3 separate regions of the Homo sapiens genome follow, and regions 1 and 2 are each linked to region 3. Evidence: fine-mapped expression QTL. Tissue or cell type: thyroid. Region 3 holds a variant in brackets; each other region holds the start of a gene. All regions are shown on one strand. Distances are from middle to middle. Region 1 holds the start of LINC02417 (long intergenic non-protein coding RNA 2417). Region 2 holds the start of LINC02827 (long intergenic non-protein coding RNA 2827). Region 3 overlaps LINC02827 (long intergenic non-protein coding RNA 2827).

Region 1 (9,954 bases), 40 kb before region 3:
ATATCCTATTTGTATTCTTTTAATAGTTACCTTTTTTTCAGCAGAAGAAAGCAAATAATTTCCAATGATATGTGACTGTTGGTTGATAACTATTTTAGTTTGTCCTTTTCTGTTAGTGTTACCTTTAATTTTGACTAACTTTAAGTTACACATATATTTTCTACTTGTGAAAAAACTTAAACATTACAAATGTGGTCAAATTCCTCTTTGAATACATCCCCAATACAAGTCCCTTCTCAAGAGATAATGGCTATATTTAAGTTTAAAATATATTTTCTGACTCTCCTCTCTCTCTTTCTCCCTCTATGTATATATACACACACGCACACACGTATGTAGCATGTATGTGTGAATGTATGTACATATGCACCTATACATATGTATGTGTGTGTTTGCGTCCATCCACCAAAAGAAATATTTTCTGTGGCTCCGTTTCTGAATGTATCCTGAAGAAATAGTTGAATAAGTAGGCAAGTATATATATGAAAGAATGTTTCATAACCACATTGTAAAATATTTTAAAAATTAAAACCATCCTAAATATTCATTAATAGGGGATTGATTAAACAAATCATGGTATATCAAAATATTGCATCAAAAATGATGTAATATATTCTTATATCCATTGACATAAAAAGACGACTAGAATATATTCTCAAACTTTAAAAATTCAAGTTACAAACACACACTGACACACATACACATCATCAAAAGGATATTCACCAACATATAGCAAGACAGTGATTCCTTCCAACAGATAAGATTCCAAATGAGCTTTTACTTTCTTCTTTAATATTTTATACTGATCAAATTTTCTAAAATGAGCACATATACATGTTACACTTTTGAAAATATTTGTAAAAACATTACAAAGGTAAAAACCTTATTCCCTTCTTTCCAAAAAATCTTAAATAAAATCCATGTTCCAGGAAAACTTGTGATGTTTATCCAAAGGCTTCTCTTTCTCCCCAGCAGGTGACCTTGGATCCAGAAGACCTGTCCACTAGTTACAGAAGCAGGTTTTTGAAAACTTCCTGGAGATGAGAGAGGATTAGCAGTATGTGCTGCACGTAGCAGAAATCTCCAGCTGTAAATATTTAAGTGTCATTTCGGGTGTTATTTATATATTTGCTCAGCTGTCTGTACTTATGTTATCTGTATCCTAGATGTGTTTTTCTATGTTTTGCCTTAGCTAATGCTCTCCTGGGAAAGAAACAGTCTGTGAAGTCCTTCGCGTAGAATGCCAAGAGAGCATGACAAGCAGTTGGACATTTGAGCAATGCTTTTGACACTCCTGATGAAGATCAATAATTATTTCAAGCACCAATTAGTGCAACTGATGTTCTTAGTGTCATTGAAAGCATGCCTGAGAACAGCTGGAAACCTCCTATTTCTGGTGTAATATCTTTCTCATGGGAATTACACCTGAGATTGTGAGGTTCAATTCTACAGTCATTTCTCTACCCCAGGTATTGTTGCAAAAATGAGCAGCCTCAGTCATCAAGTTCCTAGTCAAATGCAGATTGAACTGAAGCTAATTCAGCTCATCAACATTTAACCTCTGGTCATTCCTCAGTCCTGCTAGAAGAGAGAAAGGTGCTGACGAGAGGCTTTTTAGCTCTATTTTTCACATGGATGAAGAAACCAAGGCCAGTTTCCATTCTCTAAGACTGTAAAAAGAATCCTAGGAGGAGTTTCTCCCCATTTTTTATTGTATTTTATTGTATTTTACTTTATTTTATTTTATGTATATATTTGGTTTTGGTAAAGACGAGGTCTCCCTGTGTTTCCCCGCCTGGTGTCGAACTCCTGGGCTCAAGCGACTCTCCTGGGCACATGGCTCATGTGTAATCCCAGCGCTTTGGTAAGCCGAGGCAGGAAGACCTCCCCATTTTAAAGATGGGGAAGCGGGCCAAGTCAGACAAGCTGTCTCTGATCTGTATGCTGAGGGCATTGTTTCCTGTCTCCAAGAACGGAGCTGTTTTTCCCAGGAATGGCTCTGTCAAGAGTCTATACACAGAGTACTTTTATTAAGGCCACATCAGGACAGCAGCTTAACCAAGCAGGGATGTCAGGGAGGCAGGAGTAGAGGTTGTCAAGGGAAATTTTGTTATCTTGCAACTCTTCTAGGCAGTGGCCAGAAATTGTTTTGAAAGACAGGCTTATGCCCAGGGGACGGAGAAATCCAAGTGTTACAGCTCCTGACCTTGAGGGTTTATGTACAACCTGAACACTAAGCTAATGTGCCATGTATCCTGGGGATGCCAACAATAACAGGTCAGGCTCCTCCATGCCATGCACGTGTGTGTGTGTGTGTGTGTGTGTGTGTGTGTGTGGTAACCATCCTCAAAACAAAGCCACAATTACCATGGTATTTTCTGTGACTCCACTTCTAGGGATGGTTATAGATACTGCTGCTGCATGGTAAGGCTATCAGGCCCTGTGCTGGCATGCAGGAGGTCTCACAAGATCTATCCTGAACCTCCAAGTAGCAAGAGATGTAGGCCATTTCAGATAAAAGCAAGGATGCCTAAGTATTATTATTTTTACATTTCTAAAGGAGTATCTAGAACGTCCCTCACTCCTGCATCCCATGACAGATCTCTCCCATCAGATATAAAGGCAGGCAAATGGTACCAGACTGTGGACTGAATGCAGAAGCTGCTGGCACCCAGCTAGGGACAGCAGATGAGCTACAGGCCTGGCTGAGAGGCACCCGTCTCCAAATCTGGGATTTCCCTGGTCCCTCCTATTTTTCCAAATAAGGAACTACTCTCCCAGTTTGCAGATGCAGAAAATGAGGCCTAGATATAGCAGCTGCGTCCACCTGTTTGTGACGCAGCCAGTGCCCAGAGCTCAACGGAAACTACTAAGATGAGAGTTTGTGCAAGAAAGAGTTGCCCCGTGCATTATCACAGCGCACTCTCGGTTCGCTCTTTGGGGCACCCAACCTGACAAATAAACCTCGTTCCTCTTATGAACATAGAACAAAAATCAAAACGGGATACTTCCAACTCATATCTCATCTCCTTCATACCATTTCTAGTCCAAGCCAAAGCCCCATTTCCCTATTCATAGATGGACTCTCAGACTTCTCCCTCGTCTTCTTCAAGTGAGTTTTGTGAAATGAGATGGAACAGATGAGGATCTTTTTAGTGGTACAGCACTGGGGGCAGGCAAGCCCATTCCTTCACAGAAAATCAGGACAAAATAAAAGCCAAAATCCAAAAGTCTCAGAATTCCAATTCTAGACCTGTGTGGTCCGATCTAGTAGCCACTAGCCACATGTGGGGCCACTGAACACTGGAGAGGTGCTCCATGCAACTGAAGAGCGGGGTTTTTTATTTCATTTCATTTTAATTAACTTAAAGACTGATCATTTTATTCTGTTATTAGAAAGCATAGGTATATATGGGGCAATTTAGGTTTGTAAATGAGCTTCTTCAACCATCAATGTTATGAAATCTAAGTACAGATCGGGTATTTCCAAAGAAAATTTAGTGTCTGAACTTAGATGTGCAATACAGGTAAAATACACACCAGAGTTGGAAGACTTAGAAGGAAAAAAATGTACGGCTCATTATTAATTTTGTATATTGACACATCAATTTTAATGATATATTTTATTTAAAACATATCTAAAATATATTGTGTTAAATAAAATACATCATTGAAATTACTTTCACCTATTTCTCTTTTTTTTTACGTGTGTAAACATGATTCCTGGGAAATTGTTAATTGCATATTCTATTTTTGTTGGTTCACTACCCCAGACGTCTGACGTTCCCAGGGATGGTGCTGCAGAGGGAATATCCTGGTCCAGAGCTCCATTCATCCCTCGCCCTCTCATGTTGCTAAAAGGTCCCTCTAGACCATTTTCCAACTTTCTCTTTCTTCAGTACTGTTTTAATATTACTAACTTCAGGGAATATCAGCTTCCCTTCACCTTTATCTCACCGACAGCGTTGCTCTCCTCTGCCTCCTGGCTTTCGAAGATCCATCTTCTGCTACGAAAAACCCTCGTCTTCACTCCCCATTCTCAATGTTTTCCTTTAACACCACCTTCTCCGGCTTTTTCTGACAATTCCTATCTCTTGAAACAGCTTCCTTGGAGGTGGAGGGGAGAGGCATCAAATCACACGCCTACTCCTTCCTGCCTGTCTCCCACCATCACCCCTTCTTGCTCCTGCTGAGTGGTTCCCACCTCTGTTCTTCCCTCCATCCCACCTTTTCTCTGTTTCACTCACCCTTTCTCGGTGCCGCAGGATCTCAGGTTGGATTTCTAGGATACAGACTCTGCATGGAGATGGAGATCAGCCTGCAAGGGGTCTACTGGGGGCCTGACCAGCTCATGCTCCCCAGACCCGGCAGGCCTCCCTGTGGCGTTCACTCTGGCAGCAGGCCCGAATGGCTAGGTTGTCTCAAGCCACCTGTGCCCAGGTTGCTGAGCTGTTCCAGGCATTCCAGGAGGTCTACGGGGAGGCGGGGGGGCTTACCCCCATAGACCTCACTCACCTTGAGAGAGTGAGGAAAACAGGATTAGGCAGAGACTGAACTTGAACTGCGTTGCTTTCCACAGAGGCCTCGTCAGATCCCTCTGGAAGCTGTGGCTCTGGGGAGGCCCTTCGGAGTCCCCGTGAAGGAAATCAAAGAAATGAACCTTTGTGTCCCTGGATCAACCAACTGGATCCAGGATCCTGATGCCCCCCAAGGAGTGGCAATCTTGTCTACACAACCCACCACTCAAATAATTCTCTTGAAAGCCCCCAGAGATCTCCTGATTTCCAAATCTAAACCTGTTTTCTTGGGCACCTCCTTCCTGGTGTCTCTGTAGCCCAGGCCCCCACTGAACATCCCTCTTCTCCTGAGTTCTTTCACTCTGCACAGTCCCGACCCTCCCACATTGTTTCTCTCATGGGCTCCTTCCCCTCCTTAGACAGCTTCTGTCTTCAGCCCTGTTCTCTCTATCTTTTCTACCCTCTCGCTCCATTTCTTCTCTTGTCAGCCCAACTTCTTTCCAGATGATTCCAAAAATCGCATCTCTTGCCTCAGCCTCTCTCCTAAGAACCACAGGTCATTCCCACTGCATTTGCTGGATGTGTGCCCCTGGAAGAAGGTGGCCTGCTTCTCAAACCCGGCTTGCCCCACACGAAACTCAACCTCACATCACTCCAGGTCTCCTCCAGACTTCAGGTTTTTACCCCCTCACCCCCAGCACACTCCTCCTCCTGCACCGCGCACAGCAAGCTCTGGGGACTCCTTCGCGGCAGCTTCTGCATTCAGGTCTTCATCTCAGGGGACTGTGGCTGTCATCTCCTTCCCGCATGGCCCTGTGCGAAGCCTTTCCCAGCGGTCAGCTGCGGCATTGAGAGCACTGGTGCTCTGGGGCACAGTGGCGTGCTTCGCGTTCCCTGCCCCCCAGTAGCGGCCTCCCTGACCTAGCAACCTGGTATATGGATAACCCGGCTCGCTGCAGTCAAGTTTCAAAAGAACATGGTTGGATAAGCACAAGGCCACCGTTGCTCTGGGAAATAACCCACAATGCACGCCCCACTGCTAGGACAGACCCACTTAGGGACAGCTTTGCACCTCCACTGGGTGCAGGCAGGGACAGCTGGGCCCTACCGTCTACTCTTTTTGCTCCAGATTAGGAAGAATCTTGATTCTCCCTGAGCCCAGGGAATGCAGGGCCGATGGTCCCCAGGACCCTGAGAGGGACAGGGCAGTGATGGGAGTCGCGGGGCGGAGGATGAGGGGAGGGGAGGAAGGGGGCGTGGGGAAGCTCTATGTCATCAAACCTTGTCCCTAAAGTCCCTGGGAACCCCCAGGAGCCAACCTCTCCCAGGGGCCGACCTAGGCAGGAGACAGAGGGATCTGAGAGGGCGGGTAGGGCGGGGGCTGGGGGCTGCGGAGCGCGGGGAGGTTTGAAAGCCGCTGCGCCGCGGCTCATCAAGTCCATCCCTTCCCGCGCTCCCCGCAGGTTTCCCGCAGACAGTCGCACAGTACCCCTCACTCCACTTAATTCGCTCCGCGTGCTCTGAATCACAGAAAGGCAAACTTGCTAACAAAGAGGCGGCCCGCCCGCGTGCGGGGTTCCCGGGCGCGTCCCGCTGGCCAGGTGAGGACGGCGGGCACTGGGCACCGCAGCGGGGCGCGGGGCGGGCTGGAGGCGCGCGGACACTCCCCCGGCCGGCAAGGAAGGGGCGGGCCGAGGCGCGGGCCGTGTGCCGCTGGGTGGCCCTGCGAGCCGCCGCTCTCCGCCTCTCTAGGCTCAGCTTCCATCACCGCGTGGCGGAGCCCGTGTCCGGGCCAGGTGAGCGCGGGCGGCTGCGGCGGGAGAAGCGCGCCCGCGTGGGGTGGGGCGCCGGGGGCGGGGGAGGGAGGCTGGGGGTCCCGGCAAGGCGCCGCCACCTCCGCCGCCCGCAGTCCCTGATGGACCGTGGCGGGGCCGGCGGGCAGGGGGACGCTGGCTGCGGATAGGGGTGGGGCAGGCATCCCGGGGGAGTCGCGGCGCGTGGGAGCACGCGTTGGTGTGTGCAGGGGCCCGCAGCAGGGGGTCCTTAACCACACGCCTGAGTCCGCCTTCTGCACTTGTGCCTTGGGAAGAGCTCTGGGCCTCTGGGGGCCGTGTGCCCTCCCGGGACATGGCTGTCCCTCTTCAAAATGTCACTCTCTTCGCCCACCCTGAATTCCAGTAGCTGCCTCTTGTGCACAAGCATAGCCGACAGGCTCAAACTCGGCTTAGCTAGATGTGGACAGGTCGTGGCTGCCTGCCCCACGCAACACAGAGTCTGCTAAATGCAGGCACCTGCTGTGTGTGGTGCACGTTGTTCCCAGTGGGTCAGGCTGCCTGTACAGGGAGGTCCTGTGTTCCCTGGGCACGTCTGTGCATTTGTGGCAACATGATTATGCAGGCCCTGTCACCTGTTTGTGTGCCCATCCCTGCACATGCAGCTGGCTGGCTCCTATGAAAGGAGGAGGGTCTGGAGGTTTTGGGGTGTATAGCTTTCCTAGGCGATATGTGCAGTGTTAACGTGTGCATTGGCTGGAAAGTGTGAAAGGGAGGCGGCTCAATTGGGTTCGGCCGGACAGCATCTTAACATAGGTCTCAGCTGCTGTGTGTACAGGAATAGTGTCCCAGGGGTCTGCAGTGTGTGGCAAGTATTCTGAGGTGGGGTTGTGAGAAGAGGCGGCTTCTGAAAAAAGTCCTAAGTGCACTCTGGGGCATCGGGTGTATGCAGGCGGAGGGTGGGGTGGCAGGAGAATGAGGGTGGTATTAGGCCAGGGTGTGTTCGATTTGGGGGCAGCTTGTAGTGGAAAGCAGCAGCTGGAGTCTGGAGACCTGGATTTGAATTGGAACTTAGTGGTTGTCACTGTGTCATTCGCTTTGTTGCCTGGAAAGGTCGTCTGGGGCTCAGTTACTCTGTGTGCAAAATGGGACTGATAATCACTGGCTTATCTCCCAAGGAGGCTGGAAGCTCCCATTGGTCAATGCCTGAAAGTGCTTTGGCAGCAGTAAGGTTCCCAGGGCCAGGGGCACTGCTGGGCCACAGGTGCAGAATTGGTGGTCTGGGGAGTGCTTGGGTGGCCTGGAGCTGTTTGGTTTGTGGATAGTAGGCGAGCCATTTGCAGGCTGCTTCCTGTCATATTCAGCACAGCAGGAGTGTCTGACTCTTGCGTGTAAAATATGTATAGACCTGTGTAGTTTCTTATAGTTCTTGTATGAATGCCTTCTATAGCACAGGAGGAAAACTGGCTTTGCTGTCTTTAAATCGCCCTGGAGCACTTTGCCTTTCCAGAGAGCCATCCTCCAGATGAACCAGTGGGCTTATGCCCACCATCTTGCTTTTACCTTTATGCCAAATGAAGCAGTAAGGAACACCCTCCTGTTTGCAGCCGGAGAGATAGGAGATGAAGAAGCGTTCCCAGCCAAGGTCACAGATCTAGGGTGTCAACTGCAGGCCTCTGTCTTTTGCGGTATAGAGCCTTCAGATCCAGAGCCAGCCCTGGCCCCAGCTGAGGAGGGGAGGGGAGGGGAGGGAAGAGTCACGCCAGACAGCACCAAACAGCAGGACATGGTTTGGTGGTTTATCTGCCCTTGGATGTCACCTGTCACTGATAATTTTTTTTTTTTTTTTGAGATGGAGTGGGATTACAGGCGCCCGCCACCACACCTGGCTACTTTTTGTATTTTTAGTAGAGAAAGAGTTTCACCATGTTGGCCAGGCTGGTCTCTAACTCTTGACCTCGGGCGATCCACCTCCCTCAGCCTTCCAAAGTGCTGGGATTACAGGTGTGAACCATTGCACAGGGCCCACTGAGACATCTTTGTATGTGGTAGCTGTTTAGTAATGTCTGTGAAAGCGAAGAGCCCTGGGTGGAGGATGCTGGAAACCCAAGTCAGGTCCCAGCTGTGCCCCTGCCCGCCATGTCCTGGGGAAGGTTGCTTTGCCTCACTGGGTCTGCTTCCTCATTGGTCCAAAACAGGGCATCTTTCCAGATTGTCATTCTGATCTCAGCTTGTGTTTCACTTCCTCAGAGAGGCCTGTCCTTATCCCCATCTAAAGTGGCCACCTCCTCGTCACGTTCACATCACTTCCGTGATCTGTTTCCTCTGTGGCACGGGCCACCCTTTCTGAACTTCCCTTTGCCACGTCCTACTACAGTGTGAGCTTAATGAAAGCGGAGACTGCGTTTGTCCTGTCACCTGCTGGCTCACCAGCACCTAGACACAGTAGGTGCTCAAGAAATATGGTTGTGTGAATGAGTGAACAAAGAGGTTAACAAGGGGCTGGGGATGATGCATGCCTGTTTTTCAAACTGTGCTCCTAGGAGCTTTGGACGGGGAGAGCAAGCCCCATGGCCCTGGATCCCTCACACCAGCAGCTTGGGGTTCATCTAAGTTACATGCCGGCTTCCAGGTAGGATTTCCTTTGAAGAAAGTGTTCTCCCACTAAAATAAAACTAGAAAGCCATTGCACCAGAAGACTTCAAGGGGTCTTTTCATCTTTTCAGCTCCAAGTTGAAACAGTTGTACGGCACCTGGAAGTAATGCACACTTGGCCTTCTGTGAGGGTCACAGGCAGGATTCACGCACACAGAGTGGTTGTTCCTCGGCTCATTTCGGTTTGGCCATGGCATTGATCCACAGCAATTTTTATGCAACTGATTTAATTTCCTGAATTTTTGGTTGGAGTTAATATGAAAACGATTTTGCATACAATACGGTAGCAAGGGCTATGTGGGAACTCTGATCCATGGGAGAGACAGGCCCTGGACAGGGAAAAAACACAAAACATCTGCAAGGTGGAGAAACCACACATGGATATTTGATAGCTCCTTATTTAAGGTGACTGTGTTTGTCGTCGTCCTCTGTTGGGTATGTTCCCAGGCAGCCTGCCCAGATGTGCCTCATCCCCAGGAGATGCCCACTCAGCATTGTCTTGCTTGAGTAGTTGGCAGTGCAGGGGAGCTCTGCTCTCTGGGCGAGTGCTGAGCCTGCAGGACAGCCACGTGGTGCACCAGCCTTGGCCTGTATTTACAGCAGCCATGCATCCTAGGGTTTCCAAGCTCGTCTCCATGTAAAACATTGTCTCGTGCTGTTTTTTTCTATAAATACACTTGGAAATGGTAGGGCAACTGCTGTGTCCAACACTGTGCCCAGGTTTGGGGCACAGAACCTAGATTACCTCTCCCTTTTCTTCTTTTCTTTTTTTTTTTTTTGACAGAGTCTCACTCTGTCGCCCAGGCTGGAGTGCAGTGGTGTGACCTCGGCTCACTGCAAACTCCACCTCCCGGGTTCACGCCATTCTCCTGCCTCAGCCTCCCGAGTAGCTGGGACTACAGGTGCCCGCCACCACGCCCGGCTAATTTATTTGTATTTTTTTAGTAGAGACGGGGTTTCACCATGTTAGCCAGGATGGTCTCGATCTCCTGACCTTGTGAGCCACCCGT
Region 2 (9,954 bases), 28 kb after region 3:
CCAGGACGCCCAGCACCCCCGTCCATCCCTGTGGACGTTTCCTAGCCCTGGACAGAGGATTCACCCCTTCCTTCTCTGGGGTTCACACACAAGCTTCCATTGTCTTCTACTAAACTACAGTAAATGCTACACTACTTCAGGGCAGGACTGGTGCCTGACTCATGTTTGTTCACTCCAGGCACATGGCAAACCTAGCAAAACGCTGGTAGCTGAACTAATGAACTAATACCGCTCCGCCCACCCAGCCCCATTCCCACACCAGAGACAGCCTCCCAGCCGCTGTGTTCTGTGGCCCGTGTAGGGACTTGGAGTCTCAGGGCCCTGACTCAGAAGGGCAGGAAGTGGCCTGAGTCCGCTGCCTTTGAATTGCTTTCCACCCTGGCTGGCACTTTCCTGCCCTGGAGTGGTGCCGACGACCCCGGGCCTCACTCAGCATTCACACCGGCCCCTCTGGCCAACACTGACCTGCCCACACCGTGGACTCTGGGACACCCTTTGTGTCCCTGCATGTCTGGGGCTCTGAGGTTTCACCTGGGAACCCCTGGCAAGGCTGGTCCCTGTCCCCGTGTCCTGCCTCCTGGATGACCAGGGCCTCCTTGCCCCTTGTGGCTTGTCACCAGCCTGCGTTCTGTCAGGCAGCAGTACACAGCCCCCCTCTCTGGGGACCCCCCCCTCCATCTTGCCCACCTCACAGACCTACCCTGCCCCCAGGACACCCAGCATAATCTCCTTAAAGGACCTGGGTGACTGCAGGTAGCAGATAGGTGTCCTGCGGGCAGTGCTGGCCCCCAGAGACCAGCTCTCTGCTCAAACAGGGAAGGCAGAAATCGCAGGGAGAGCAAAGAGGGGTTGGGTATTTGAATCCTGTGTCGTCGGCCCTGGAACCCCACACAGGCTTCTCACCTCCAGCCTCTGCCTCCCCCTGCAGTTCAAGTGCTACGGATGCAATAGCTCAGCGACTGGCAGCGCAGCACGTACCTGCTGTCGTGGGAGGTGAGAGCCACCAGTGCCCGACAGCGGCTGCAAGGCAGTGGTGGCGCTCTGCAGCCAGCCGGCCCACCCCTCCAACATCTGCAAGGGGGTGGTAAGTGCCCCAGCGCAAGCTGGGGACAAGGAAAGGGCCCCAGCCTGGCCTCCAGGAGCCCCCAAAGGGCTGGGGTCAGGCAGATGGGTGTGGGAATAGCAGAGCACACATGATTCTTGGCCATGAGCCCACAGTGCCAGGCCCCTCAGACGCTCTACAAAGCCCTGGGACAAGCAGCTCCTGCTGAGAGAGTCCAGGGCACCATGGCATGCTCCTGGGGCCACCCACGAAACCTGTGAGCCACTCAAGGCCAGGTCCAGCCCATGAGTCCTCTGGTCCACCCTCTGCCTCTGCCATATGCACCGGGACGGCCAGCCCTTCCTCCCCACCTGTGCCTGCTTCTGAGCCAAAGCCATGACACCTGCCCTTCCCTTGCAGGGAGGCTGCCTCACCAAGCTACCTGCTACTCATGGGGGCGATGGGCATCAGGGTGGCCTGCCTGGAGGTGAGTTGCAGTTGGGAGATTAGGAGGAAGGTATGTTGCAGTTGGGAGATTAGGAGGAAATACTCACTCGGGATATTAAACTAGGCTCTGAACCCGTCTCCAGCGGCAGATATCTCCAGTAACTGGGCTGGCATGTCCGTGCCCTGCGCTGCTCTCTTCTCTCAGCTTCCCTTTGCAACCAAGGCTGATTCCCACAGTCAGTCTCTCCCCCAGAGAACATGAAGGAAGATGCCTGAGGGACAACATTAACTTGTCAGGAACAGGGGCCTGGGAGGAGTGTGGATGTGGGCTCAGGTACGGGCATGCACCTTGAGTGTGTGCATGTGGGGGTCAGTGTGCAAGCCTGCCGTGGTGTGTGTGGGTCCGTGGGGGTCCCCATGTTCCCGGGTCTATGTGGGTGGGGTGGTATGCACTGTGTGTGTTTAGGGTGCTTGTGCATGTGTGAGTGTGTACATATCTGCATTCATTCCTGTGTGTGTCTGCGTCTGTGTCTGTGTGTGTGTGTCTGTGTCTGTGGGTGTGTGTGTGTGTGTGTGTGGGTGTGTGTGTGTGTGTGTACCATCAGCCCTCCATATCCACAGGTTCTGTATCCTTGGATTCAACCAACCATGGAATAAAAGTACTAACAAAAAGGATGGTTATGTCTGCACTGAACATCCTTGTCATTACCCCCTAAACAATACAGCGTGACAACGATTTACATAGCATGTGGATTGTATTAGGAATTACAAGTAATCTAGAGATGATTTAAAGAATGTGGGAGGATGTGCAGACGTCACATGCAAATACTGCACCATTTTATATCAGGGACTTGAGCATCAGTGGATTTTGGAATCCAGAACAACTGTATATAAGTGCGCGTGTGCGTGTGTGTGCGTGCGCGTGCGTGTGCGTGTGCTTGTGCACACACATTCCCCTGTGTACATCCAGCTCTCTCCCTGAGGATAAGCAATGCCCTTGGCTCCCATTTCTCCCTTCCACCCAGTCCCCCTGCTGCCACCCAGGAAGTCAAGGTCACTCTCTCAGGCTGCTGTAGTCAAGGGTCCAAGGGAGGGGAGCCAGGAAGGAATCCTCAGAGGTGAGAGCCCCCGCAAGTGTAGGCTGTCCTTCTAGAAGGGGCCCAGCAGTCCTGCTGTCCTACCCAGCCCTTCCCCGTCCAGTGCTATGAGCACCGTCTAGGGAAGAGGAAGAGTAGTGCTTAGGCCTCAGAAGACCTGAGTCCAGTCCTGGCTTTGCTCCTGTGTGACCTCGAGCTACTTAACTTCCCTATCCCTCAACCCTTCATCTGCAAAATGTGAATAATTTCTTCAACCTCCTAAGGTCTAAATAAGAATAAGGTGATGCCTGTGACCCACTTACAGCACATGGCACAAATGAAAGCCTCCGTAAGCCTTTATCCAGCTGTCCGCAGACTTCAGAGGATTTCCGATACTTCCTCTCACTGGGTCCATACAACAACCTGAGACCCAGGCCAGACAACGAGTAGCGTTCTCACTTTACAGATCAGAAAGTTGAGACCCAGAGAGGCAACTTGCCCAGGGTCTCACCCCCTGAAATGGCGCCCCGATCTCCTGATATTGGCCCTTCGCTTTCGCAAACTCCCTACCCCGACTCAGAGGTCTGTGGGAAAGAGAAGCAAGGGATGGTGGCCTTGGCTGGCTTGGAGAGACTCCCAGCATAGGGTCCTTTCAGATGATGGTGCCAGCTACCCACATGGTCTGTGGGCCTGGAGGGTCCAGCTACAGCCTAACATGCTGGGAGGAGGGTCTCTAGCCTTTGGAGGGACACTCACCTTGGTTCTGCCACCTGCAAGTTGTGTGACCTAGGGCCATTTATTTCATCTCTGAGCCTCAGTCACTGATTTGTGAAATGGGGCTGACCGGACCTCATCTGGTAGCTGGTGATGGGAATTAGCAACACCCATGGAAGTGTCTGGCTCACTGCTGAGCAGATAGCAGGTGCTCAACATGTGACACCATCATTTGTATTCTCTCTGCAAGGGCACACTGTCTCTCAAAAAAAAAAAAAAAAAAAAAAAAGCCCCAGTTTCTCCCTGGCCAGACCAGCCTGCTCCCCTTCATCCTCACTCACCTGCAGGGCCAGGGAGCCCAGGTGGCGTTAGCATTGCCGCTCTTTTGCACCTCCCCAGGGCAGGTCTTCTGTCCCATGTGCTGAACCCCAGAGGAGTCACCACTGGGAACTGGGGCAGGGCTGCTCTGTGCCACTGCACCAGGCTCAGCTGAGGTTTCCAGAAATCTGTGACTCCCCGTGCAGAGGGGGCCTGCTCTGTATGGACTCCGACCAAGCCTGGCCCACTCTGTCTATTTCTTCCTGACCTCTCCAGCCCCGAGAGCACATAGAAGCTGCCAGATGAGGGCAGTGAGGCCGAGGGCCGGCAGTAGGGCTGCAGATGCCCTGAGCCCTAAGGTCAAGGTGGATGGAACTGCTGTGTAAGTCTGATGCCGAGGAGACCAGGTCGTTGGGCTTTCAGGTGAGTGGACGCTTTCTCCCCACTCACAACCCCCACCATGCAGTCTCTGCTCCTCCATGGTCACTGTGGAATGGCTCCTGATGGCGCTCAACCCCTTGCCCTGTTTTCTCCCCTGCGGTCCACTGAGCCAGCCCTGCGGCCGCCAAGTCTCAGGTTAGAGCTCCCTCTCGCGGCCGATGCTGGGCACTACATTGCCCAAGACCCAGGTGGGCCGAAGTCTTGAGAAAGGGCTCGCAGTCATCGTCGCCAGCAGGCAGACACCAGGCACCTACCTCCCCGACATACCCAGCCTGGTACCTCGAAGACCAGTAGCCTTGAGCTACACTTGGGATTCCCAATACAGTTTCAAAACCGTCTAGCTCATCTTTCAGGAACCTTCCAGGGTTCACATTCTGATTTTTCAGTAAGGTTCTCACCTCTGTGACCAATTACCTTGAGACTGATGTCCTGCACCATCCTGGAGTGTTGGGATCTGCAGGTCGTGAAAAGGGAAACCAAGCAATCACTTTGGAATGACTTCCTGGAACTTCCCTGGCCCCTCCTTCGTGTTCTCTGATGACAGCCAGGAGCTGACTCAGAAACCTCATAAGAAGCTGAAGGCATGACGACTTCCCTGTTAAAAAAAAAATGTCCCACGTGTGGCCGAGTGCCACACCCAGGCAGCTGCCGAAAAAAAGCACCAGACACCATGCAGCTGGGCCCCAGGGCCCGGCCCAACCCGGTTGGCCTTCTCCGGCACCTGCAGGGAACTTGTCCTGTCTTGTCTCTGCTCGCCCCCTGCTGGCTGCCTGGAGCCATTCCGTGCTGGTTTCTTCGCGTCTTCTGTCAGGAGAGAGATGCTGATGCTTACTCAGGGATCCGGCGGGTCAGTATCCTGTGCCCTCTGCACGATTCAGGGTGGGGGTGTGCGCGTGTGTGTGTGCATGTGGACCCACATTGATGAGTCTGGCCCATACACCTCCACCCTTATTGGACCTCTCCTGGGAGCACCCTGGGAACACACATCTCATGCAGAAGTGTGTCTCTTGAGAGCCTAGCTCCTCCTGTCCTCCCCCAGCATCAGATGTACACTGTACGAGACGTGAATTTTGCTTACAGCACAAATCTGTGCTGGCCTAACAGCTCCCTTCTGGCCTCCCCCTTAGCATGGATCAGAAAGATCCAGAAAGTGCACAGGAAAATCATCAACCCATGAGGTGGGGACAGGGGAAGAGGGCATGCCGCATAACACCTACGTGGGTGGAGGGGCTGTGACAGCCACTTGCTTAAGCTGGTGGGACATGAAATAACCTCCTAAGCCACATTTCAGCTGTGACCCTGAGGCCCCGAGGTGGATTAACAGAGCCCTCAGCACCGAGTCTCCAAGCTGAAGGCAGTGGTCACACTCCCTGCTGCCCTCCAGGTTTGGAGGGATGGAGAGGAGAGAGGAGGGGAAGAAGCTACCTTCTTCACTAGCCTTGCTGAGAGACAAGTGGGTACGGCCCACAGGCACCTCCACCAGCCTGCCCTCTACATCCAGATTCGCAAGGTCAGGGCGGCAGCAGCAGCTGGAAACATTGGGGAAAGTCGGGGTGTTGTTTCTATACTTAGGGGAATCTACTGTCACCCCAGGTGGCACGGGACATTCACGGGGCTGCTCTAGCCCAGTGCCCCTCTCCTGCAGACAGAGTCGAGACCTGACAACAGGTCATCATCATTATCAGGATCATGATGACATTATCCCAGTGCATCCTTGAGTGGGAGGGAGGAGAGGAAGAAGAAGGTGGCGGGGGGCAGGGGGTGTCCATGAAGAGCAAGGTGGGAGAATAAAGGTCCTCTGTGTTTTAGAAATGGGAAGTGAGACGGGGCGGACAGCGACCTTCCCAAGCCTGCGCGTGCTTTGGGTAGGATGCTCCAGCCCCTTCCTGTTCGGCCCCTGGTTGCCGACAGAGGGGCTGGCAGGCGGGACTCCTGCGGCTGGGCTTGGCGCTGCCTTCTGTGCTCACTGTCAGAGCTGATGACAGCTCTAGGGGCTCCTCCCAGAGTCTCCGTTTCCCCCATGGCTCTTGCACATGGCAGAGCATCCATAACGGACCTGAGTTTTGTTCCGGAGTCTGAGGGCAGCAAAATACAGGCCGTTTCCCAGAGAAGAAGGCGGCTTCAGACAGCTCTGATGAGGGAGCAGAAATACTCACTCGGGATCTCATTAAACTAGGCCATTTCTGGAGAAGCCCTAGGACCACAGACCCACAGCATCGACGGGGAGCTTGTTAGGAACGAAGACCCTTAGGCCCCCACCCAGGCCTGCAAACTTGTAATAAGGGGGTCCCCGGGTGGTTTATGTCCATTAAAGTGTGTGACACCCTGCTCTTGGACAGTAGTTCTTGGAGTGCGGCTCCCCCACTTTCACGGGCATCACCTGGGAGCTTGTTAGAAGTGTGGAACCGCAGGCCCCACCCCAACCTAAGCGGGAAGCTGCCCTTTCTCCAGGCCCCAGGGGACTCACATGTGCACTGGGCATGAGCAGCACTGCTCCAGAGCCCTGATGGCTGACAGCCTCAGGGAGTTCTGATCTCTCTTTGCTCCTTTGCCCTCTCCACCTGCAGGATGGGTCTCATCTGCTGCTTGCACCGAGGCTCCAGCGACATTTTTACTCATGGTCAACTGCGTCCCCTGCCAACTGCCCTTCGAAGGACAGGCGCCACATCCACCTGCCAGGCCTGCAGCATTAGCACCAGCTCCACTAGGGCCACAGATGCCCCCTCCTCTGTGTCCAGCCCCTGCAAATGCACCAAGTGCCTTAGACCATGGCTCCCCACCTAGGCGGGGACCCTCAGCCCCCTCCCCTCCATTTCTGAGCCCTCACAGCCAGAGCCTTGGCAGGAGAAGGACCCTCACCAGGCACGGGGGTGCCGGGGACCACAGGAGGGTGATATTTGGGCCCTCTGCTCCCTCCCAGCTCCCAAACCTGGGACAAGGCTGAAAACCCGGGTCCCCTGGGATGCCTGCATTCTGGGCAGGATCCCCACCAGTGCTCAGAAGCCCTCGCTTTGCTGTCCCCTCTGGGAAATGCATGGGGTGGGACAGGTAGGAGTGGCTCTTCCCCTAGATGACCTAGCTAGCCCTTCAACCTGCCTACTCCCCACACTGCCTCACCTGGAAAGCCGTGTCCTGCTGGCCTCACTCCTTCCTGCAGGGCCTGGAGGTGGGGAGGCCAGAGGCAGGGCAGTCACAGGCTGGGTGGAGCTGCCAGGGCAGGGATGTGGGGTATGCTGGCCACACTAGCACATGCTGCACCAGGAGCAGAGCCCTGCACCCTGCCTAGTGGCTTTCCCAAGAGAAACCCCTCTGGGAGACCCTGGCTCCAAGCCCCGGCCTCTATAGTAATATGCCCCTCGGGGATCTCCTGGTCTGGGGCCTGATTCTCAGGAATGCCAGTGGGTTTTTTGTTTTTGTTTTTGAGGCAGGGTCTTGCTCTGTCATCCAGGCTGGAGGGTAGTGGCGTGACCAGGGCTCACTGCAGCCTTGACCTCCCAGGCTCAAGCGATCCTCCCAGCTCAGCCTGCTGACCAGCTGGGATGATAGGCAGGCACCACCACACCTGGCTAATTTTTTAAACTTTTTGTAGAGATGGGGTCTCCCTATGTTGCCCAGGCTGGCCTCAAATTCCTGGGCTCAAGCCATCCTCCCACCCTGGCCTCCTATAGTACTGGGGTTACAGATGTGAGCCACTTCGCCCAGCTGAGGCATGCCTGGTTTCAAAACTATCTTCAGCTCTTAATGTTGGTGGGTGTAAAACTCATCCCAGCGTGGACTAAATCACAGGCCCTGCAGAGTTGGAGGGCTGAGAAGGGGCAGCTCTGAATACAGGGGATCTGCCCGAACCTCACTTTTCCTGGGGCCCCTCTCCCCAACCCTGGGGCCACCACCGTGTTGCTTCCAGAGGGTCTCGCTCTCCTTCCCTTTTTCCGCCCGTCCCAGGCTGGATAGAGTCCCTTCCTTTGGTCCTGTCTTGCATCTGTCTTGAATTAGGCAGGGAGTTTTCAGGAAGAACTTTCCCAAATACTAAGGGAGAACAGAGAGGAAATCCTATGAAATACAGAGTATTCATGCTGGCAGTCTCATGAAGGGTAGGTATCAACTTTTGCGACAACCATAGGTACCCCCCTAAATGGCTATTACAAGTGGGCACCTTGAGCATAACACGGGAACCCCACGCCTGGCCTCCATACCTCCCAGGTCCTGCACTTCTCCCCAGAGGTGGGCCCTCTTCCCCCTAAAGCACAGCGCCTTGTGATGCGAAGGCCGAGGCTGGGAGAGGTCACACCTGGTCTCTCCACATGTTCCAGCTCCCAGCCTGCTGAGCACAGCCCTTGCTGACCTGGGCTGGCCCTGAGGAGGGGTGTGCTTGCTCCCGTACACAGGAGTGACCTGAAGGCCCCTCACTGTGGTCACAAACACAGCCCTAAACTGTCCAGAAACTGTATCCTCAGAGCGGGAAGTGCCCACGTGGACAGAGAGAAAGCCAGCCTCTCGGGGCAGATTGCCGCCTCTACTGTGAGGATTCTCCAGGGGCTACCGAGAGGCTGGGCTGGTTTATCTCCTCTGCCTAGAAAGGCCTGGGGTGGCCAATGTGAACTCATTAAAAGGAAAACCAGCTTTCCCAGAAATGACTGCTCCACGGCCAAGAGAAACAGTGTGACGTGATTATCCTTGCTGCCCTCCAAGCTGGGCTTCGTGCAGATCATCGAAAACTGATCGTGACTCCCCAGAGCTCTGAAGTGCTGCATATCAACTGACAAGACCTACAGACTGAGGGCTGAGAAAGAGGGAGCGTGCTGGGCCAGGGTCTTGTTCTTCCTGGTGGGGCACCAAGAGAGGCAGCAGTGGGTAGGAGGGCTATGGTTTGACCTGTCTGCCCTGGCAGGGATGGGAGACAAAGGTGGCAGCCCAGGAGAGCCTGCCCCGTCGGCCCCAGCCCCATGTGTTGGGTTGGGCCAGCCTGACTGGAGGCAGGATTAGCTGTGATTCCTGCACTGGCGGTTGTCCAGCCCAGATTTCCGTTGGGGAGATTGGCTGGTCCAAGCTGCAGAAAGTGGTAGGACAGCCCAGAGCTTCTTGGAAATACGACCTCCATGTCCAGGCCAGCAGCCTGGGAGATGAGACAGGGTTGGAGGAAACAGAGGCCCAAGACAGGGCAGGTTCTGCCTAGGAATGCACAATGGCTGGAGTCCAGAGCCCAGGATGCAGCCCCAGCTGGGTGTAGCCCTCCTGCTGCCCAGGGTGGAGATGGATGCCCAGGGCAGGTCCTCCCGGGCCCCTGCTTGGAGGCCAGCAGTCTTGAGTTCCTTGGAGAGAGAGGACATGCCTGTGGAAAGTCATCACCAGTCCTGTATAGGGCAAAAGCCTCCTGCCCACCAGGGCCTGGGCAGAGAAGCAACAGGTACTGGGATCCCACACAGCTCAGGCCAGCACGTCCACACCCTGCACACGCCATGCCACCATTCCCCAAGGGGCGGACACCAAGACAGAAGGGTACGTCCGTCCCTGTGTCCCCCGCATGACGAGTGTTGGTGGGAGGCAGGGAGTGGACAGGGATGGAACCTGGCCTTGGGGGAGGGGATGAAGTGTGTGTGCCCATTCCTCTCTTTCCCCCGCCACACTCCCCGACAGTCTAGCCTCAACCCCGGGAGCCCTCCAGGCAGGGCCACCTGCGGGGTGTCTGGCGAATGCCTTGTACTTACTGAGGGCCTGCTGTGCACTTAGAACGTGCTACTTGCCGTCAGTACATTCGCTTGCAGTTACTCCAACAAAAAGGTATTTCCCCCATTTTACAGGTGAGGAAATTGAGGCTCAGCAGGGTTAAGAGGCTTGCTGGTCAGCAATAATGGCTGTTGTCTTGCCACCCCAGCCGGGTAGAAAGAAGCAAAGCTGAGCTGGGAGCCCCCTGTCCTC
Region 3 (9,954 bases):
TTAGGCAAATCACTTAATCTCACTGAGCCTCAGTTTTTTCATATGCTACATGAGAATACCAATACCTGTAAGAATTAGAGGTTACTATTTAGAAAAATAGCACAATTTGTGCCACATACTCAGTGCTTAGCTATTATGCATAACTATTATGATTAGACTGATGGGCATGCCTGGTCTCTTTAATGACTTTCTCTGTCCATAGTGCTGACTTTGAGACTTTTCTGATGGTGACTCATGATATGCATGGAAGCATAAGAAATGCTCACACGAAACATTCAGAAAACTAAACTTACCCTTACGGTATATGATGCTGTGATGGTTAACACTGAGTGTCAACTTGATTGGATTGAAGGATGTGAAGTATTTTTCCTGGGTGCGTCTGTGAGGGTGTTGCCAAAGGAGATTAACATTTGAGTCAGTGGACTGGGGCAGGCAGACCCACCCTCAATGTGGGTGGGCACCGTCTAATCAGCAGCCAACATGGCTAGAATAAAACAGGCAGAAGAACATGGAAGGACTTGACTTGCTGAGTCTTCTGGCCTTCATCTTTCTTCCATGCTGGATGCTTCCTGCCCTCGAACATGAGACTCCAAGTTCTTCAGCTTTTGGACACTTGGACTTACACCAGTAGTTTGCCAGGGGCTTTTGGGCCTTTGGACACAGCCTGAAGTCTGCAATGTCGGCTTCCCTACTTTTGAGGTTTCGGGACTCGGACTGATCCACCACTGGCTTCCTTGCTCCTCAACTTGCAGACGACCTATTGTGGGACTTTACCTTGTGATCCTGTGAGTCGATTCTCCTTAATAAACACCCTTTCATATATACGTAGATTCTATTAGTTCTACCCATCTAGAAAATCCTAATACAGATGCATGCTGATATTTTCTCTACTATTTTAGCTCACTTTTTTTAGTGCAGGTTACAACCCACTAAATTTATTTTATCACCCAAATGGGTCACATTCCAAAGTTTGCAAAACACGAAGCAGGATTCAGGTGGCAATTCTTCCCCGTCACCCTATCTCTGACTCCCACCGCCCCACCCCACCTAGGGTTTCAGTTAAGCCATAATCATTATGGGATGATCCTGCTGAGCAGAGGAGGAACCAAAATGCCACACTTTCATGCCTCTTTCATGGCCCTAAAAAGAAAATGTGGCCCAGGCTTTCCTAGGCGGCCACCTAGAAGATGTGTTTCTTTCCCCTCCCTTTTCCTCCACGGCTCCCTGCAGCTACCATTACCCCTGCAATGTTTTTCTCTAATTTATTATTTTAATTAGCTGCTTGGCTGTGTTCATAATCAAAACTTTTCCAGCCTCCCAGGAGCTCTGCCAGGCAATGGGAAGCACTCCGTGACTGGAGAGGCTGCCTCTGCTCCTGAAGCGGAGACCTTGCTCCTTCCCAGGCCGCCAGGAGGGCTCAGCCTACAGGGAAGCTTGGGAGCCCTTAAAGGAGGCATGGGACCAAGACAGGTGGCAGAGAAGATGGAGGACCGAGCCTGGCAGGGGAATGAGGTGGCTTGGGAGCATCACTTCAGGATCTAGGGAGGCCCTGGTGGGGCCTTCTGCTCACCTCTTTGCCAGAGCTAGAAAGCCCTTCACCTCGGACAGCATCACCCCACTGAACGTGGCCTCTGCCCCCTTCCTGGGCTTGCCATTTGAGGAAAAACAGGTGAGGGACCTCGTAGCTGGTTTCTCTGCTGCACCGCTTCTTGAGATGCTGAATGGCATGGGACTCCCCACGGCTTTCGGGGCACCTCTACCCCTCTTGGCTGTCAGGATCTGCTGGGGGACAGGGCCATGGCTGAGGGGTGTATTAGTCCATTCTCATGCTGCTATGAAGAAATACACAAGACTGGGTTATTTATAAAGGAGAGAGGTTTAACTGACTCATGGTTCAGCATGGCTGGTGAGGCCTCAGGAAACTTACAATCATGGTGGAAGGGGAAGCAAACAAGGTGGCAGGAGAGAGAGAAGTGCCAAGCAAAGGGGGGAAAGCCCCTTACAAAACCATCAGATCTCATGAGAACTCACTCATGAGAACAGCATGGGGGACCCGCCCCCATGATTCAATTACCTCCCACCAGGTCCCACCCACGACATGTGGGGATTATGGGAACTACAATTCAAGATGAGATTTGGGTGGGGACACAGCCAAACCATATCAAGAGGGATGTGCATTTGGTCTGCTCGGGGCCATGGTGAGTGAGACAAGTCAGGATGAAGCTGTGGTCACCCCTCCTAGCTGCCCATCTGCAGCTCAGGGACTCTAGATCTACTGTAGCCCAGGCACCGCACAACTTGCTTCCTGGGCCAAGCAGCTTCGTGTGGGTCAGCAGCCCAATTGGTAAAATGGACACTAAACTGAGCATTAGGATTCTTGAGTTCTAGCTCCATGCTTCCCCTGGCTAGTTGTGTGACTGTGGAAAAGTCACTTTTCTCTGGGCCTTAGTTTCTCCCTCCAGAATATAAAAGGGGTTGAACTCGATTCCCTCCTCCCTTCCTTCCTCCCTCCCTTCCTTTCTTCCTTCTTTCTTCCCTCCCACATGTAGGACTCCATTGGAGACACCAAGATGAATAAGGTTTTATCAAGAGGCTAAAAGAGGACACACAAGGTAGCAAATAAAACAAATAGGCAGTGATGAGTATAATTACAAAAACATGGGCAAGACATGGAGCTGGTACAGAGGACAGAATGGTTTGCTGAGGAGTGGGGAGAGACAGCTCCAAGGAAGGTTTCCCTTGGATACTGAGCTGGGTTTGGAAGGTGATTTTATGTTCCTTTCCAGCTCCACCCCTCGGTATGCCCCATGAGATTCTGCTCTTGTTATAAGGGTAGATGGGATGGGGAAGACAGAGGGGGAAGCAGTGCTCTGATTTATTTTATCAAGTGCTCTTTAAAACCAGAGAACCAAGAAAAGAATGCCTCAAAGTGGAAAATGGCCCTTAGCATGACAAGCCTGTCCTTGAAGATTCAGTCAAACCAAGGCAATGGCAGCATGGACAGAGCCGGGGAGAAGTGCTTGCCTGGTGCTCAGAAAAACGTCACTCACGAGCAGGGTGAGCAGTGGTGCCTGATACATGCCTGCCTATGCCCTCCTGGAGAGCTCAGAGGCTCAGGTGTGGCACTGAGGTGCCATCTACCCTGCAGGTGAGCGCCAGGCTCAGCAGTGCACTATTGGGACTGCAGCCCGGGGTTCAGCTGACTCTTCTGATGTGGGAACGGGGTACCATTCTTTACAAGCAACCGAGCCTTGCTCAGACATGGCCTCCCAGTCCTCTCCTGAGCCCCCAGGCTGTGTTTGCCAGCCCCCCTCCCTGAAATTAGACCCATTCTCCTCTCTTTCTAATGGAAATCACCCTGGTGATTGCTGGGCCTTCCCATCTAGTCACTGGCCTGCGACATGAGGGCAGGTGAAGTGACAGGTGTGGACCCCACTATGGCCTGAGAGCCTGGCGTCCTCATAGCAAGTGCACAGTGGGTGTGGGTTGAAAGAAAGAACGAGAATAGCCAAGCATTGGTCTGGCATGAAGATCCTTTCCAGGGGCTTCTTCCTAATGACCTGGAGGAAAGTCCATTGCCCTCGGGGACTGCTGGCACTTTGCAGACTGCCCCTCCAAAAATAAAAACGGCCATAAAACAGGGAAGGGGGATACTCGTTGTTGCCTCAGGAGCTCAGCAGACAGACGGGTGAGGGGAGCAGATGCCGCTATTTCCAAAGCCCCCTACAAAGCCCCGTTCGTGGAGTCCCATGCTCATGTGGGCGGCTGCCAGGTGCCAGGTGGTTTGCTGGGCCCGGGGTTCTGAGGGGAGTCGGGGGAGTCTCCCACCCCCGGGCCGAGGGCTGCTGTGAGGGGAGCAGTGCCACAGGTGTGCACGAGAGGGACAAGCTCACCTGCCCAGCAGAGTCAGAGCAGGTGCCGCACTGGAGATGGGGCTTCATGGGTGAGTAGGAATTCAGTGGAAAAGGAACGGCAAAGAGAACAATGTGAGCAGGTTGGGAAGGGACAGGAGAGAGCCTCTCAGAGGCCCAGAGTTTGGTAACCTATCCAAATCCACACAGCCGTAAACAGAGGGGCTTGGACTCGGACACCGGTACTTCACCCCAGAGTTCACCCTCTTTACCACTCTACTATTGCTGCCATAGTTAATGGGTATCTACAATGTTTACAAGAAAAGCAACTACTTTGTTCATGGTGATTAAAGCCCAGGTACGGAGGAAGGAAAGTAGCAGAAGATAAAGCCAAAAATAGGTTAAGGCCAGACACGTAAGAGCCCTGAGGCCATGCAAAAGAGTCTGGGCTTGGGGCTCTGGCTGTTGGAGCCTGTGGGGATTGCTCAGCAGGGAGTGCCTTGGGGCACAGCCTGCCAGCCTGCAGGTAGAGCAGGAGCTGGGAGCTGACGGTGGGGAGATGGAGACAGGTTTGAGAGCAGAGGAGAACTGGCTGTCATTGAGCGGAGAGGAAGGAGTCAATAATGACCCTGAGGTGTCTAGTCTGGTCTAGGGTGGGTGGGTGATGGTGCCATTGACCAGACCGACCTGGAAGGAGAGACACGGATGATGTGTGTGGTTCCCAGTGGGGGAACTCCTGTCCAGGCCAAAAACCTTTTCAGTCCAGCGTGATGCTTGGTTCCTAGTAGCAAACATCAAACAAATGAACTATACTGTCAGCCAGTGCATTTCTGCCTCCCATGCCATGGGCTCCCCCACCCAACCCCAGCACCGAAGGTAGAGAACTCCCCTGCCCGGGGGATCCTTCTTTACTGGGCGTCCCATGGTCCTGGCTCCTGCCCCACCCCATCCTCCCCCCAGCTGTCAACACAGAAGCCCTAGCTAGCAGGACAAAGAAAAATCCTACATTTACTGTTACGCCACTGCCTGCTTTCCTTCAAGCCTGCTGCCTTATTTCTATCCAGCCCCAGGCATGTGTGGCAGTTCAAGCTAACGCTTCTCCCCATGATGACGTGGGCCACACTTTGGCAATGTTTCTCTCCTATAAATG[A/G]GAAGTTCCTAAAATTACACGGCATGGGTGACCTGCTCTGCCCTTACTGGTCTGCTCACGTCCTCATTGCCTGACTTCACCCTATGCAGGGTTTGCTGGCTAATCGGCCACAGGCTATGGTTTTGAGAAATGCAGTTAATACTCCACAGAAAACCAACCCAGTTTCTACAAAGAGCCAAATACTGTTGAATCAACTCTACGCCAATGGTTGTTAAAACCGCTCACTGGGGTCAGCGCTCTCCCTGCCCCACCAGTCTTCCACTGCTTTCTGTTGAACTGGGCAGTTTCCAAGTGGTTTGAGTGACAGCCATGAGCCGCTGGTCCAGAAGCATCTTGCTGGTGGTGTCTTGGCAGAACACTGTTGCCCAATACTAACAGGGACAGTTTAACCATGTGGAAGGGACCTCAGAGATATTCCCATCCAGTGCCCCCAATTTGCAGATGAAGAAACTAAGGCTTTGAGAGGCCAACTGTCTGTCCACAGTCACATACCCAGTCAAGGGCACGGCCAGGACTGGCATGCAGACCTGCTGACTTCCGCCCTCCCGTGGCACCCTCTGGTGACCCATTCCAACAGTGAGCAGTTTTCCTTCCCTTGCTCAGAGGAAAGCTTGCTTTCTAAAGAGCTGACCACGTCCCCGGCAGGAGCTTCCCGGAGGACTTGCAGCACTCTGGCTCCTGCAGACCCCTGGCTAAGTATAACCAGGCCCCGTTGACCCAGACTCATCTCCTGATTTCTTCTGGACAGCAATGCATGTGGATTTGTTGTTCTCTAGACCTGAATCAGGGAAATGTGTCCCTCCAGACCCCTTCCAGACCCTGCCCCGTGGCCCAGGATCCGGCGTCACTTTGCAAGCTTTGCAAGATCCCAGCCCCATTTGTGTGGCCTGCAGGTGCCCTGGCAGAGAGCAGGCCTCCGTCGGCCAGATCCACACTGCTCCTCTCCGGGGCTGCATTTCTCATAGCCTCCGACTCCCCTGGGAGCCATGGTTTTTTCCTTTCTTGCATAATCTGATTTTTGCCCCTTTAGATGAAAATTCTGTTCCTCAGGATTACCCCACTTTCTACCTTAAAGCTTCTGCCAAAGCAAACACCCTAACAAACACACGGAAGGAAAGGATGGGGTTCAGGTCCTGAACAAATCTCAGTAGCCCTCCAGGCAACTCCTCCCAGGGGAGGGAACCTGGAGCTTCAAGGGGCCCCTCCTGGGACTGAGCGACCGGGAAGCCGCTGTGTTCTGCGAGGCTCAGCACAGCGTCACCAACTGGGAAGAGGAGGGCAGGACACCTGGACCCCATTCGTTAATTCTGGGCAATGGTTCTCAGCTGGGATCACCCAGGAACTTCATAAAAAATTCATGGCTGGGTCCCACTCCCACAGACACGGATGGGCCTGCAGGGGGGCCTGGGTTTTTCAAAGCTCCCCAGGTGATTGTACAGCCAGGTCTTAGGGCACCATAGGGGTGCAGGAGGCCTACAGACCATAAAGGCCACAGGTCATTAGGTAGTGCAAAATAGACTTCAGCCCCTGGCCCCAAGGGTATTGTTTTGTGTGAATGACCATTTCTCTGGGCAAAGGATGCAAAGCTTTTCATCAGGCTTTCAGTGAGGTTCTGTGTCTCCCAACAGATGGTCCCCAGACCAGTCCAAACATATGTCTTTTGGTGGCCCCAGAGCCATATGCTCAGCCCCCACTCTGGTTTGAGGGACAGGCTTAAGAAGCCTAACAGATCACAGATAATGTGCATATTTCTATAAAGAGGCTATTCTCATGAAAAGCCAAGATTCTTGGCCTTTTGCTGGAGTTAGATCAACTCAGTGTGGTCAAGTTGACTGTCTCATGCTGTTCAGAATCTCTTCCTGGCACTATATGTGCCTTTGATTAATAAAAAATGAGAAGTGAATTATTACTTAATTAATGCACGTTGATAGGCAAAAGCCCTCAAAACATAAAACCCATGGGAAAAAATAATCAAACGGTCCTTGGTAGTTACAGGCTGGGAACTACTGGTCTAATATAACTCACTCCCTTCTTCGAGAGGTGAAGAAACTGAGGTCTGGAGAGGTTCAGGGACTCTCTTTAGGTCACGGAGCTAGTTATACACAGTTGGGACCCGTGCCCAAGCCTTCCAGGCATGCTGTAGAGGGTCAAAAAGAATTCTGTCCAGGATATTTTGCTGGAACCCAGACTCAGGAAATCCCTCACTGGTCATGGAGGTTGTATGGGCCACAGATAACACTCACCCACAGAGAATTTTCAAACCTGTTGTATTCTAGGATTTCACTGAATCTAAGCTATCAGTTGTAAGATACACTGTTGTTTTTTTGTATCACCAAGAAAAAGTACTGCCAAGTGTAATTGTAAGATGCCATCAATCATAAGATGTGCCCCAATTTTAGAGACGTTAAAATGTGAGAAAAAATGGGCATCATGGAATTGAAAAATTATGGTGTGTTAGCCTCTCCCATTCCATTTGCTGCAGCCTGGGTGGTGTCTGGAGGTACCTATGGAGATAAAATGGCACTTTGAAGAAATCATGTCTATTAAAAACGTAGAAGTAAGAGAGAAGCAGGCCCAGCCTACTCTGGGGGATCCAAGGACAGAGGCCTGGATTTGCCCTCAAATAACTGGGTTTGCACCTCAATTCTGACCCTCTGATGGTGTCATCTTGGGCACATTCTTATTCTCTCCAAGCCTCAATTTTCTTATCTGCAAGACAGGGATAGCCTGGCCCCTCCTGCCCGGCCCCATCCTCACAGAGCTGTTGCAAAGCTCAGAAGAGAAAATGGCAAAATGGTAAAATACTTGCGAGTTGAGTAATGTAGGTGCCTGTTCATTGCTAAGAACCACCTTCCATTTACTCAGCCAAGGTCTGCGACTCCCCGGAACAGAGAACTGGGAAGTGACAGGTTAGGTTATACAGAGAGTCTTCCTGGGGCAGACGGGAGACAACTTGCAGGGAAAAGCATCAGGGGATGTGAACAGAGCCCGGGAGGGCTTCTCTAGCTTTGGCTACACCCAAGACCCCTTGAGGAAGCATCTACTGACCATCAGAGGAAATGGACCCGTCCCTAAATGGCGGGCAGAGAGACTGGGAGACAGAAGTCCACCTTCCCAGGAGCAAATGACAGAGATGGTCAGAGGTCCCAGAGGACCCAAATCCTGGGAAAACACTCCAAACAGCCCCCATCTGGCACCTTGAGGACACTTGCACCCACCCACTATGCTCTGCTGAGGATAACAGTCACTAAAAGGCTCCTCAGCTTCATGGCAGGAAAGAACAGTCAAGCCCCACCACCCCAGCTACATTTCCCAGGTACTCTATTTCCAAGAAGGCATCCCCCAGACCTGCAAATCAGCAGTGTCCCGTCCCTGCCCCCTCTCAGGACTGAAAGGGAGTCAGACAGCAAAGAAGGCTCTCCTCCCTCCTCCTGTGGTCCCAGGGAGCTCCAACTTGTCCAGCACAGTGGCCCTTCCATCATGGAGGCAGCGAGACTGAGCAAGCAGGCCCTGGGCTCTGAGTCCTGGTCCTGGCCCTGCCCCTAACTCGGGCCATTTACCTCTCCTCCATGGGCCTCAGTTCCTTCCTCTGTAGAACAGGGAGGGATAAGGGGCCCAGCCGTGCTTCCCCAATGGGCAAATATAAGGATTGAACAAGGGGAGGTGCTCAAAATGGCACCTCCACATCCATCAGGGAAACGTGGACAGAGGGAGGGAGCGCTCTGAGGGGAGGGGAGGCGAAGGGACTCAGGTATATTAGTCATCCCCAAAACTGAAGTCATTTCTCCCCGCCTCATATGCAGTAGGAACCATAGTAAGATGCACAGAATCAGAAGTCAGACCCAGATTCAAAATCTGCAGCTCGCTTACATGTGTGACCTTGGACAAGCCTGCAAACCTCTCTCAGCCTCCGTTTCCTCATCTGTAAAGCTAGGCCACCACACTGTTCTCACAGGCTCTTAGGAGGCCTAAATTGAATAAGACAATGCACGAGAAGTGCCTGGTACCCAGCGGGCACTCAAGGAATGGCAGCTCCTGAGGCCCCCGCCACCCCCTGCTCCAACCTGGTGGTCTCCTGCAGGTCAGGGGGGCAGCTGTCCTGGCCATGGGCATCTGGACCCTGGTGGAGAGGAGCAGCTACCTCAGCATCCTGGCCTCCAGCACCTTCACCGCCTCCGCCTGCATCCTCATCTGAGCGGGTACTCTCGTCATGGTGACCGGCTTCCTGGGCAACAGCACCATCTCCTAGGAGCAGAAGGGCTGCCTCTCCATGCTCTGCAGGGAGGGGGACCCTGCACTACCACCCTATTTCCCAGTGAGGTCCCCAGCAAGGAAGAAGGGCTCCAGTCCTGGAGTGGGAAGCGGCTGAGGCCATGGGGCAGCCAGAGAGGGGGTGGCTGCTCGCCAGCCTGGTGTTCTCCAGGATCTTAGGACACAGGCCAGGAGGCCAGCCTCGGCAGCTGCAGTAGTAGCTCCCTCTCATCTGTCTCTCCTCCTCCCTCTCCTCCTCCTCTGCCCCTTCCTTCTTCTCCCTCCTCTCCTTCCCCTTCTCCCTTCCCTTCTCCTTCCTCTCCTCCTTCTCCCTTTTCCTCTGCCTTCTCTTCCTCCTCCTCCTCCTCCTCCTCTTTTTTCCCCTCGTCCTCCTCTCCCTCTCTTTCATCCTTTCTCTTCCTGTTTCTCTTCCTGCTCCTTCCAGATTTTATCATGGCAATTTTCAAAGATATGCAAAAATTTTAAAAAGTGCTTTAATGAACCTCCATCTTCCCATCACCCAGGGCTCAACAGTTACCACTTCATAGTCCATCTCCATTCGCTGGCCTGCACCCTCCCCTCCATCCCTCCCTCTCCCCACCCCAGGATGGTTTTGAAGCAATCCCAGATATCAAATCATCTGTCAATATGTCAGCATATTTCTGAAAGAGCAATAAACTTTTTAAAACATTTAAAAAACAA

The links.
Region 1: it holds the start of LINC02417, and the variant in region 3 is fine-mapped to the expression of LINC02417 in thyroid (GTEx, PIP 0.97).
Region 2: LINC02827 starts here. The variant in region 3 is fine-mapped to the expression of LINC02827 in thyroid (GTEx, PIP 0.96).

What each region holds. Positions count from the first base shown.
Region 1 is chr12:3,362,418-3,372,371 of GRCh38, reverse strand. LINC02417 (long intergenic non-protein coding RNA 2417) reads right to left here and starts at 4,264. Exons shown (of 3, transcript NR_146865.1): 1 at 4,248-4,264; 2 at 3,947-4,107; 3 at 771-1,087. It overlaps LOC100128253 (a long non-coding RNA gene), which reads left to right and starts at 6,250. Exons shown (of 12, transcript NR_148995.1): 1 at 6,250-6,313. RefSeq lists enhancers at 6,199-6,749, 6,750-7,302.
Region 2 is chr12:3,294,912-3,304,865 of GRCh38, reverse strand. It overlaps LINC02827 (long intergenic non-protein coding RNA 2827), which reads right to left and starts at 4,503. Exons shown (of 5, transcript NR_187483.1): 1 at 4,453-4,503; 2 at 1,597-1,761. It overlaps LOC100128253 (a long non-coding RNA gene), which reads left to right. Exons shown (of 12, transcript NR_148995.1): 6 at 929-1,084; 7 at 1,463-1,529; 8 at 3,874-4,020; 9 at 4,152-4,284; 10 at 4,425-4,885; 11 at 5,330-5,548; 12 at 6,215-6,352. RefSeq lists a silencer at 3,809-4,103 and an enhancer at 4,704-4,923.
Region 3 is chr12:3,322,641-3,332,594 of GRCh38, reverse strand. It overlaps LINC02827 (long intergenic non-protein coding RNA 2827), which reads right to left. Exons shown (of 5, transcript NR_187483.1): 5 at 1-9,246. All of the region lies in intron 1 of LOC100128253 (a long non-coding RNA gene), which reads left to right. It also overlaps the pseudogene LOC100418939. Among named protein-coding and RNA genes, the nearest start is that of LINC02827, 27 kb to the right of the region's middle. RefSeq lists an enhancer at 5,547-6,046. The variant A/G (reference allele first, on the strand shown) is at 5,002.